Linked DNA regions of Homo sapiens. The gene in region 2 interacts genetically with the main gene of each other region. Each region holds a gene or a part of one and is shown on either strand. Other genes may lie near its edges.

Evidence for each region.
Region 1: changes in ARMH3 (region 2) and RIC1 are lethal when combined (synthetic lethality), as found in Homo sapiens cells (one study listed by BioGRID).

Annotation. Positions count from the first base shown.
Region 1 is NC_000009.12:5,772,094-5,777,087, reverse strand, and holds the end of RIC1 (guanine nucleotide exchange factor subunit RIC1), read right to left. Parts: intron 4,525-4,994; coding exon 4,347-4,524; intron 4,197-4,346; coding exon 4,008-4,196; intron 3,131-4,007; coding exon 2,842-3,130; 3' UTR 531-2,841; downstream 1-530. UniProt on the Homo sapiens protein: The RIC1-RGP1 complex acts as a guanine nucleotide exchange factor (GEF), which activates RAB6A by exchanging bound GDP for free GTP, and may thereby be required for efficient fusion of endosome-derived vesicles with the Golgi compartment.
Region 2 is NC_000010.11:101,990,157-101,997,199, forward strand, and holds part of ARMH3 (armadillo-like helical domain-containing protein 3), read right to left. Parts: intron 5,200-7,043; coding exon 5,141-5,199; intron 3,448-5,140; coding exon 3,382-3,447; intron 1,883-3,381; coding exon 1,813-1,882; intron 456-1,812; coding exon 395-455; intron 1-394. UniProt on the Homo sapiens protein: Involved in GBF1 recruitment, Golgi maintenance and protein secretion.

The sequences.
Region 1 (4,994 bases), on a different chromosome or scaffold from region 2:
ACTATGATGAGACACTACTTCATATACAACTTGGATGGCTACAGCCAAAATAACAACATGCTTTGGTGCCAAGAAGTGAGATAGAAAAGTTCACATACTATATGTTTCCATTTATATGAAATGTCCAGAATAGGCAAATCCATGGAGACTGAAATTAGGAAAATGGGAAAAAGTCAAAGTACTTTTTAATCCCGCTTATTAGAAATGACGCCTAGGTTCCTCTATACTTACATGTAAAATTTTGTTTGCTTGGTAGGTATCTTAAGGTATACATAATTTTCTGTCATTCCTTCATTATATTTTGAACATTTTCCATGTCATCGACATGGGCTGTTTCCTCCAGTATTTTACTGTCAGGCATCTAGGATGTTGCGAACTCTTGATGCTGTCATTCTAAATCTACATATAAATAAATATTTTAAATAAATCTGTCTGAATTTCATTTCATAAGGAAAATTCTAAGAAGCAGAATTATATAATGAAAAGATGATTTTCGTGGCTGTTAACCTGAGATGATGAATAAACCAAAGTTTGTGTAATGGTTTTATTGCCCTTTACCAAGGGGAGAAAAATACACATTACAGAAATAGCAGCAACTTTAATTACAAGCAAAGGTTGATTTTATTCCCACACCCCCAATGACTTGTTTTGGTTTCAGCAAATAATTTATTAATAAATGCATCTAGTAAACCTCAAATAGTTATACTGAATATTTAAATTCATTGGCTAAAATTATGGCTTAAACAGTTGATATGTGAACCAAACACCACAATAAAAATGGGTTTTTAAAAATTAAGGTATATAACAAATAAATTACCAAATTTTCTGTAAACCTGCCAAACTTCTTGCCTGGGGGCCTCCTATCTCTATTAGTTGTAAAAGAATATTGTATAAAAGAAATGATTCATTCACGGCCTAACCCACAGGAATACAGTTAACTTATACTGGTGCCCTGCTTTCAAGAATGTTTGAGATGAACTCAGCAGCACAGTGTTTTATTTCAGATACTTGAAAAGATCACAGCTCTTTATAATGGTAAATCATTTTTATTGACTGAATATTCACACCAAACACAAAAGCAATGCTGGTTCTTCTCCTTAATGGACTAGGATAGGAGAAGAGAGTTCAGTTTAGTTTCTTGCTGGGCTGCATGTACTCACATGCAAAACATTATCTTTAAGATTCAGGGAAAGGTGGTTTGAAACAAAGACTTAAATAAAAATAGCACCAGAAGGACCAGGTACCAATAATCACATACTCCACCCATTCGGGAGTTTCATTTTGTGAAATATTATTGCACTTGTAATGTAAAAAGTAAATGATAGTAAATTACCCAACTCAGTAATTTTAAATACTTCGATGTATTCTGAACTAAGCAGTTTCAAAATGGTTTTGAGTTTCTCTTCAAAGGAAACCTGGCTAAGACAACTAAATCTAGCCATTTACTTTAAAAAGCAAGGAGAGAGGACCAAGTTTTGTTTCTAAACTACAACTGCACTATGAGAAAAGAGGCTATTTTAGATAGTGGTACGAATTTGGTCCACATCAAATACATCGTTATTATAAAAATAAACAAGTTTGTTTTTTGTAAAAAATAACATTGCATTCCTTGTTCAAATTGCACAGTACAAACAAGCTGTCTTAATACTGTTATAAGGTAATTAGAATTACATACAGTGGATGGGTGTTTAAAGCAATTAAGGAGTATGCAGTTGTTTTCATAATGTATGAAAACAAATTTAAGTCATTTCTAGAAGTACATAAAATACTTTAAGTTTACAATGAAGAATGCATTCTTTACACACTAATTTTTAGTAGCCGTGGTAATACAGGATTCAGCAGTCTATTTACATAGAAGTCCATCTTTATTCAATTTACAAAAGCAATAAATAAGAGACTATGTTAATTTGCACAAAACTTGCTGCATTTCATGATCAGTGTGACCATTTCTGTTACTTCATGACCAAGCCAATAAACCTGTCTTCCTCAGTTTTGCAGAGGAGCAAGCCCTGTCTTTGTATGTGTAGACATGCAGAATCCAGCATTAAAACCTTGCAAATTATAATACAAGCCCTAAAATATGAACAGTGCCTTTGAATATATTTACACAAGAGTATTCACAAAAAGATACTGTTCTTTAATACAAAATAGTTTAGTGGTATCTAACAGCAAAATTGAGAAGAACCCCCTCAGACCTCTGCCCACATTGGTCTAATGGGAATCAAGCTTGCTAAAACAAGCACATTAACTCACAGGTAAATAGCTTCCATCAATTCTGGACTGGGATTTGACTGGCTAGTAAAGCCAAGGAGAATGTTTCCATCACACTGGCACATATTGTGCCCCAGGGTAGCAATCTATTCAGGAGGACTGATTAAAGAGTCCAGCTGTATCCAAGGGAGCAAACAGGTAGCTCAAGTACCTGACAGACTATAGCAAGCACCTTAGCATTTATTTTTTAAAAAGCAATCTGGACATAATGCAGAACCGGGAAATGTGAGAAGATGTAAGTAGTGAAAAAGTAAGCTCACCTGGGGCAAAACAATTCCTGTGGTTTAAGAGCTACCAACCTTTGAGTAAAACCAAAATATTCTCATGTACATCTGTACAATATTTACTTTTCACTGCAGCTTAAAATTTTTTTATGAAAGATGCTTTATATCACATTTTTATGGAGTCAAAAAGATTTCTTAGACAAGAAAGAATTAGTTAAAATCTACTAATACTTACCGAAGAGTCTCTGAACTGAGTTCTCCTGTTAAATCATCCAACTATGTTACAACGTACTGAGCTGCACGCTGCTGCTAATTAATACTGCCCCTTTGTGATGGAACCTCACTGTTAGGACACAGAACAGTCGTAAGTCCCATCCTGAAAAGGTTCTTCCTCCTCTGCTTGGGCTGTGTCCTCCTCTTTCCGGCTGACCATATTGCTGCTTCCAACTTCACCCTGGGGGATGCTTCCATGGCTGGAGGAGCCCCTGCTCTCCTCTGCCCGGGGGCTAGTCTGTTCTGGAGTCTTACCCATAGTTATTGGTTGGAAGGCATCTGGCTGGACCTGCTCTTCTGTTATCTCACTGAGCTTCTGCAGTTGTGGCTTAATGATGTTTAAAAATGGCTTATATCCAGGACTATGTAGAGAAAAAAAACATTAGCTCATCTGCCATAATTCAAAAGGTTTGGTAGAACATTACGGGTGAACTTCTACTGAACATTGATATGGTAAAGACGACGATAGATTAGGAGGGGAGAGAGGAGGCAAAGAAGGTAGGGAGGAAAGGCTTCTTGGCTGTCCTGCCCAGCAGAGGGGGCTGCACATTGCATAAGCCTGAGGCTTAAGTTTCTAAGCATTAGGGGCAAAGGCTGATGTTTTAGAACCAGTATTACAACTAAAAATTATATTTTACAATTGAAAGGCCAACAGGAGCTTAGACTTGAAAAAGGACCTTCAGACAACATTTAACCTAAATGCATTTGCCAATTAAGGAAAACCAGATCCAAGTAAGGGAAGTAACTAGCTCCAAATACACACATTAACTGGTAATAAAGACAGGGCTAGAGTCCAAGGCTCTTAACTGCAACCACAACTCTAATTTGGATTTGCTTGTAACTGCCATGGAATGTTAAATTCACATGGACCTTAAGTTTGAATCTTTTCAAGTAGATATTTGTAGACCATTGCTTTCAATTTCACAGGGATGCAAATCTGAAGTTCCAGTCTAATTCTAAGCTCATTTGCACTGCATCAATCTTAAGTCAGTGATATACATTCACACTATAAATTATACACTGACCAACAGTGTAACCTTACTCGATGGAATTATCCATTTAAATAGCTGGGTATAGAATGATTACTAAAGAAAGTAGCTTAAAAATGAACATATAATAAATAATATATAATAAATAAATAAAATGTAACACATGAACCATAACTAGGCCTTAATGTGAAAGGACAGGATTCACCAAAAGACATGGAAGGACACCAAGCCTAAGGAAAGCAGCACTTACCAGTCTGTAGAGGCCCATCGGTCCACTGCATGGAGCCCTGTCTTTATGTTCTGTAACATCTCTCCATCTACCTCTGAAGACTGTGTAATAACCAAAATCTGATTGATTATTGAGGATTCTCTAAGAATCAGGCCTATAACGATGCACCAGTCTAGGCACCCTGCCTCCATGAAAATGTGTAGCAAATACCTAAATATAAGCAGAAACAAAATGATTTATGCTAAGAAAGATCTATAAGATGTACAGAAGTGCAATGATTATTAGGAGAGTAGCCCCATACCTATTTGCCCAAATACTCTGAGTAGGCATTCTGTGATTTCAAATAGCCAAGAAACTCACCGAAGCTGGACCTGGGATTTATGAGGCCCTTTACTGGCCAACTCCATGGAAATGTGCTCCAGCTCTGACTGAGTTAAACTGAGTGTAGAGAAATTTTCATCCACCATTGTCCAGTCGCCATCCACCATGGAGCTACTTTCAGTCAAGTCTGTGGCTGAACCAATACTGCATTCATCACCTGATGAAGAATTGCCAAAAGTTACAACCAACTTCGTGGAGAAAATATATTTTCCTTTAATTTTAAATATTAGCTGTTCCTCAGATGTTGATTTCTCAGGATCTTGAAACTAAAACATGAAATCCATGGCTAAAATTACCATGTGAACATAGAAAACATTTAAAGAAAGAATTAGATAACCGACATTATGTACCTTTAGATGGAAAAATATACTACCACCACCTATGAAGCAGTCTTCCCCAACTCCCTCAATAAAATCTAGCTAGAGTTTGACCAAGTCTTTACATTCAGCTACTACAGGAAATAGAGGAAACTGTTAAACTAAACCATGGAGATGTAATAAGCAAAATCATTATTGTGAGAAAATCCACAAAACCAAATTTCTTCCATGAATAAACTGCAAGGAAGGGAAAAGGAGAGGGTGGGGGAACATCCACTTAAAAAGAGAATTAAGAACACAATCACAATAT
Region 2 (7,043 bases):
GTATACACAGACCATGAACTTTCTTTTTTTTTTTTTTTTTTTCCCAGACAGAGTCTTCGCTCTGTCGCCCAGGCTGGAGTGCAGTGGCACAATCTCAGCTGACTGCAAGCTCCGCCTCCTGGGTTCACGCCATACTCCTGCCTCAGCCTCCCAAGTAGCTGAGACTACAGGCGCCCACCACTGCGCCCAGATAATTTTTTGTATTTTTTGTAGAGACGGGGTTTCACCGTGGTCTCGATCTCCTGACCTTGTGATCCGCCCGCCTCGGCCTCCCAAGGTGCTGGTATTACAGGCGTGAGCCATGGCGCCCGGCCTACACAGACCATGAATTTTCTAACATTCAGTTCTTTAAAATAGATTTGTACACATTAAATGTGTACATATTTGTACTTACATATAGAGATCCATAGGAAACTCCTTCATCATGTGTGTTACAATAAACTCTACCATCAGGTCTGAAAGGGGAATAGAGAAAAACTGGATCAATTACAATGGAATTCATTTCTTGTCTTTGAGTTGGAAAAAAAGCTTCTGAGTACACCTTGCACTCACACTGAACGGCATCCACTAACCACATCTTTATTCATATACACTTATTTTATATAACGCATTTTGTGTAACACTGTTCACCACCTGCCACTTGTAAAGTAATAAGAAATTATTTCACTTGCTGACCTCCAGAAGGATACCCTGACCTGCCAATAAATTCAGATAAATGGAAAATTTCATTGTATAGATATTTCATCCCATGGCATTAATGCAGACTGCCAAAGGGAAATCATATTCTGAGACTAGACAATGAAGCAAGCTCTGAGAAGAAATTATGGATCACATTTGTGTAACCAGAGACTCAGCTCTAAAGCTATGTCAGTCAATCTCATCTTACTATCATGCTCAGTTAGACAGATATTGACTGAAATGGGCTGTGGGGCTTTGGGTCAAGAGAGGCTTATTATACAGCCTTAATTACTGTTTCTAAAATTAAGTAGATTTAGAAACTGGGGCTGAATATCCAAGTGAAATGGGATTAAGAATTCAGCTAATTCCCTGAGGAAAATGCAGAATTCTGGACAGACAAAATTACCCAAGATACAGCCCCCTACCTGTCAACTCAGTCAGCCTCATCTCAGTTTAATATACTCAGGGGAAGTTTTGTATATGTAAACCATGAACTTCAAGCCTCCTGGCCAGCCAGCACATCAATTCAAACCAAGAAAGGATGGGAAGAATTTGAAATCTTTTTTTTTTTTGAGATGCAGTCTCGCCCCAGCTGGAGTGCAATGCCGTGATCTTGGCTCACTGCAACCTCTGCCTCCTGGGTTCAAGCGATTCTCCTGCCTCGGCCTCCTGAGTAGCTGGGATTACAGGCGCACGCCAACACGACCAGCTAATTTTTGTATTTTCAGTACAGACAGGTTTTCACCATGTTGGCCAAGCTGATCTCAAACTCCTGACCTCAAGTGATCCGCCCACCTCAGCCTCCCAAAGTGCTGTGATTACAGGTGTGAGCCACTGCGCCCAGCCTGAAATCTTGATCATGTATCTTGTAAATCATGTATCAAGTTTAGACACAGCCATTTGTCTCACTGGAATGACTTTTTTCTTTGAACAACAGGACCCTTTTATTGACCACTCTATAACTGGGGTTGCTTTACCAAACACAACAATAAACATGATTCTTAGGCCAGGGAAAAAACACAACTAATAATTTATTTGCGGAAGAAGCACATCAAACAGGTTCTACTCTTCATCTTCATCATGAAAGCCTATCGCTGTCACAGAACAATGTCAATGTTGATGATACTCACTCACCCAGTACTGCACATACTAAAGGACGGCAGGGAAGATTCTTGTCTGCTGCCTTCTTCCTGTGTCTCATAGGCTTCACACCAAAAAAATGAAGAAAGGAAATTAGTAGACACCGGCACTGACATCCAATGGCCCATCATCATGTTCCTTGTGCAAATAAAATCACTATTACAGGGATACTTCCTTTTCTTTCTCTTTTTCACATGGTGGGAGAGGAATGAGGTAGCATGGGATGAGGCGGGGAAGGGAGGACTTGTGAATGCTTCAGTTATCAATGCACGCCTGTTACAAAATTACAATTCACAACCTCAAAGGGCACTAGAGAATACTACAATGGGAAAACTGTTGGTTTTACTTTGCTTTTAGTTATATAAGTGGCATTACTAACGACAAAAGAGGTACACTGGTGTTTTTCTTTGACGATAAATAATAATAATAAAAAAAAGAGGAAGTGATGGTGCCACCTATAGAAGCAGCAACAGTAGTAGTTGCAAAAAAATAAAGAAAGTTTTACATCTAAACCTCAATGTAATTTTTTTTTTTTTTTTGAGACGGAGTCTCGCTCTGTTGCCCAGGCTGGAGTGAAGTGGCACGATCTCGGCTCACTGCAAGCTCTGTCTCCTGGATTCGCGCCATTCTCCTGACTCAGCCTCTTGAGTAGCTGGGACTACAGGTGCCTGCCACCACACCCGGCTAATTTTTTGTACTTTTAGTAGAAACGGGGTTTCATCCTGTTAGCCAGGGTGGTCTCAATCTCCTGACCTTGTGATCCCGCCTTGGCCTCCCAAAGTGTTGGGATTACAGGTATGAGCCACCAAGCCCGGCCCTCAATGTGATATTTTTTAACATACCTCCAAGCTTTAAGAAATTCCCTGATCCTCCATATTCTATTTGCCCACTTCTCAGATGAACAAATCTGAGCAGCAGCTAGTCTTAGCCACTCAAAAATTATACTACATTTTGAAAACAAAAGGCTTAGAACCATTTCCTTGCTGAAACCTATATTATTGAAATCCAGTATCAGGCCAGGCGCGGTGGCTCACACCTGTAATCTCAGCACTTTGGCAGGCCAAGGCGGGCAGATCATCTGAGGTCAGGAGCTGGAGACCAGCCTGGCCAACGTGGTGAAACCCCATCTGTAACGAAAATACAAAAATTAGCCGAGCGTGGTGGCAGCCACCTGTAATCCCAGCTACTCAGGAGGCTGAGGCAGAAGAACTGCTTGAGCCCAAGAGGCAGAGGTTGCAGTGAGCAGAGATCACACCATTGCACTCCAGCCTGGGGGGGAGAGAGAGAGAGAGAGACTCTCCCTCAAAAAAAGAAAAAAAAAAAAAAAGAAATCCAGTATCATTGCCACGCTTGTGAATCTTCCAAAACTCTTGATTAAGAAACAGCTCCATGACACACAAAAATCCCAACAACAAGCATGGGTCTGTTGAACAGCCGTCATGCAAAGCCCTTTGGCACAACTTTCCACCCACATTTGTTCTAGTAAGATCAATTTCATCCCAACCCTGCCGACATACAAAAAATTTCCTCTAAGAAAAAACAAGAAGCAAAAGAAACACCTACCATTCTATGTAAGTTTACTCGAAAATTCATGTTGTCATCATGCAAAAATGCATTGGCATATTGATCCTAATAAAAATATAGAGAAAAAGTAAGAAGCGAGAGCTATATTTAAGAAACTGTAATCTATCACACTTCGTACAAATCCTTGGACTTTGAGAACTACTTTCAAGGATCAGCTGGACAGCTAATAGGATGAGCCTAGAGCCTTATGTCAAACCCTACTTAAGCCATGAGATTTTTCTTTAGTGTAATTTCCCAGTGTATCTCTAACTGGTCAAAAATTTCCAAGCAAAAACAATAAAAATTAAGACGCAGGGACTTAAGGCAGATGCTGAGAGGAATGAGAGTAATCTGTTTTCCTATTCCCTCTTCCGTCCCATCTGCCCAAGGAGCTGGCTCTGTTTGTGATAGTTTAAGGTTTTCACAGAGGCTGCAGGATTCATGTGCAGGCTCCACATGAGGGTTTAGGAGCAAGAAGAAAAATCTGTGCTCTGCTGGGAATGGGTTCAGCCCAACAGAAGCAAACTGCTACACAGGCAGCGTGGAAGCAGGCAAGACCCTGTCTATTCCGGGCTTTCCTGAAGACTGACAGAAAATCAAAAACCTCTTACCATGGATTAGTAATAAACATCCCTTGGCCCTTTCCCAATACCTTTTCTGAAGATCTGACAAGCCTACAGACTCCAATTACAAGGAACTGTTACAATTTGTGAAAAACAACTCCTTTAAAGATTTTCTTAGAAAGATTTTTGAAAAGCAATTATACCAGGCCCACTGCTAATAAGCAGCTCTTCCATAACCAGCCACCCCTAATCTTGTGAAAAGGAGGTCATCTTTCCACAGAGAACATGAAGAGAGAGAGACTGAGAGAGATCTCTACTTCATGTGGAATATCTTCACCATTTTTCTTAAGAGAGAAAAGAGCAGAGTGGGGAATAGTAAAGGGGGAGGTTGAAGCTATAAATTTAGCTCTAAACTCACTCAAGTTCTGCCATGCCTGTGTGTCACCAAGATACATGGTGAGTTTGAACCTAATTAGTCCAACCAAAAGTGGCTTCTTAAAAAGCCAAAGCATCTCTTCTTTTTTCCCCTCAGCTCTTGTTCCTCGGCAAACTGCAATTACTGAGTTTCCAATTCCCCTCTCTGGCTTTACTATCCACCCCTTCACCCCATCACAGGAAACCTGAGCTCCTTTTTTATTTTTTAAACTGCTCCACTGCCGAGCATGGTGGCTCACGCCTGTAATCCCAGCACTTTGGGAGGCCGAGGTGGGTGGATCACCTGAGGTCAGGAGTTTGACACCAGCCTGGCCAACATGGCAAAACCCCATCTCTACTAAAATTACAAAAATTAGCCGGGCAAGGTGGCACTGCCTGTAATCCCAGCTACTAGAGGGGCCGAGGCACGAGGATCGCTTGAACCTGGGAGGTGGAGGTTGCAGTGAGCCAAGATCATGCCACTGCACTCCAGCCTGGGCAACAGAGCGATACTCCGTCTCAAAACAAACAAACAAACAAACTGCTCCACAGTTTAAAAACACAGTGCTAAACAGCGTGGAAGCAGACAAGACCCTGTCTATCCATGGCTTCATCGAAGACTACACTCTAGTGGGAGAAGACAGATAATACAAAGGGGGAAGATTTTCTCTCCTAAACTTTAGGACCCTAAATGTCATGAGACAGTAATGGGGTGAGGGGAGGCAGGGAAAGATAGCACTTTGTAAAAGACTGCCTAATAGCAGAAGGCTCGTGAGACCTACCTCTGCAATACATGTAAGGATAATCAGACAGAGTTTGCCACTGTGAAGCCTGTGTTCATCTGTAAAGAAAAAAGAAACTCTTCTCTGTAAATCATCCAGATTTACATCATCTGTTTCAATACAGAACAAGGACGTATATCATAAAAGGAAACATTCACACTTTCTCTTCCCACAAAATCCATAAATGAAAATCAAGGTACTACTATAGTAATTCTTGCTTCCCTCCTAGGCAAAAGAATTCCCCCAGAAGATTTATTTTTTTAATATCCTGGTAGTCTGTTAAATGGCTAACCACCTTCCTGAAAGCCATCTAACTCACAATGGTTCCTACTGTCATGGCTCAAATAGTGGCCAGTACTCTCACATCAGCCCTTTGCTGATAGAACTTGAATAGTCAGGTCCATTTCCTTTTCCACCCACCCTCTCATCTGCCAGCTCTAAGCACCACCTACCACAAAATCTAGAAAGATTTCATGACTGCTCATAGCAAACTGGCAATGAAATCAAAAAGAAATTAACTGGAGACTAGGGTCCAGCCCACGCTTCTCCTTGCAATTGTATACTTATGCCCTAGAAAGCTGTGAACTCTTGATCATTTTTCTTCCTGTCAAAGTTACTCATTCAACAAATATTTACTTAGCACTACTATGTGGCAGGCACTGTGCAAGGCACTAGAGATATAGCACTGAATAAAACAGACAAAGGTCCCTGGTCTCTCACAACTCACATTCTAGTTATTAAAAAAGAAGAAGACAACCTCAGTAGCAGGGCTCTAAGCCCACACACAAAAGGACAAAAAAGAGCTAATCCATTACTGCCAAGTACGAGAACCCATCAAGCTTATGTTACTTTCCAGAAACTCTGTGGGTGAAGGAGTGAAAAGGAAGTAAGAAGAGGATCATGCCAGCATAGCCAAAACAGACAAATGGCTCATGATTTTCAAATTAGCTTCAACAGGACCCAGAATGAAGTCCAATCTAGAGAGAAGACCTCTTAATGGATTAGAGTGCTGTAGAAGTTAGCTATTACTATTTACCCTGACATTGACCTGCTTCTTTCTCAAAAATGGGATCTATCAATTAAAACCTGACAATTAGATGGCATAATGGGGATTACAATCCACAAATATACTCACATCTCCTCAGAGATAGGCAATGCAAAAAGAGTAATGGTGACAATCCCTATCTGACACTCCCTGGAGCTTCATCAAAGCCCCGATATAGCCAAAGAGTAATGCCCTTGCCTCCAGAAAACTAGATTCACAACTCTTCTACCCACCTTTAGCCAGTTTCTATGGCACTATCCTCCCACAAACTGATACGCAACTCCCACAGAAAAGCCTGCAGCTATCTCTCCACTTAAAATTTTTTTTAATTTTAAAATTAAAGTGTTTATGAATACAAAACTAGGCTTATTTCATTATAGACAGTCTTTTAAACTCTAAAAAAGCATATACACACAAAACAATGAAAATCAAATTTAATCATACCACCCAAATGTTATAACTGTTAAGACTTTGGTGAATCAACTTTAAGTCTATGCATAGATATACATGGTTTTTACAATTTTTTGCCTAGTATCTATTATAAAGGTTGAGCAGAAGCTTCTTTAAGGTGACACCACCAAAGTCAGAAAAATCCCAAGTAATAAAGGCTTTAAAAGCAGGGGAAAACCCAAGGGAATAGGGGCTGGGCTCAGTGGCTCACACCTCTAATCCCAGCACTTTGGGAGGCTGAGGTGGGATGATCACCTGAGGTCAGGAGTTGGAGACAAGCTTGGCCAACATGGTGAAACCCCTTCTCTACTAAAGATACAAAAATCAGCCAGGCGTGGTGGCATGCACCTGTAATCCCAGCTACTCAGGAGGCTGAGGCAAGAGAATCGCTTGAATCCACAAGGCAGA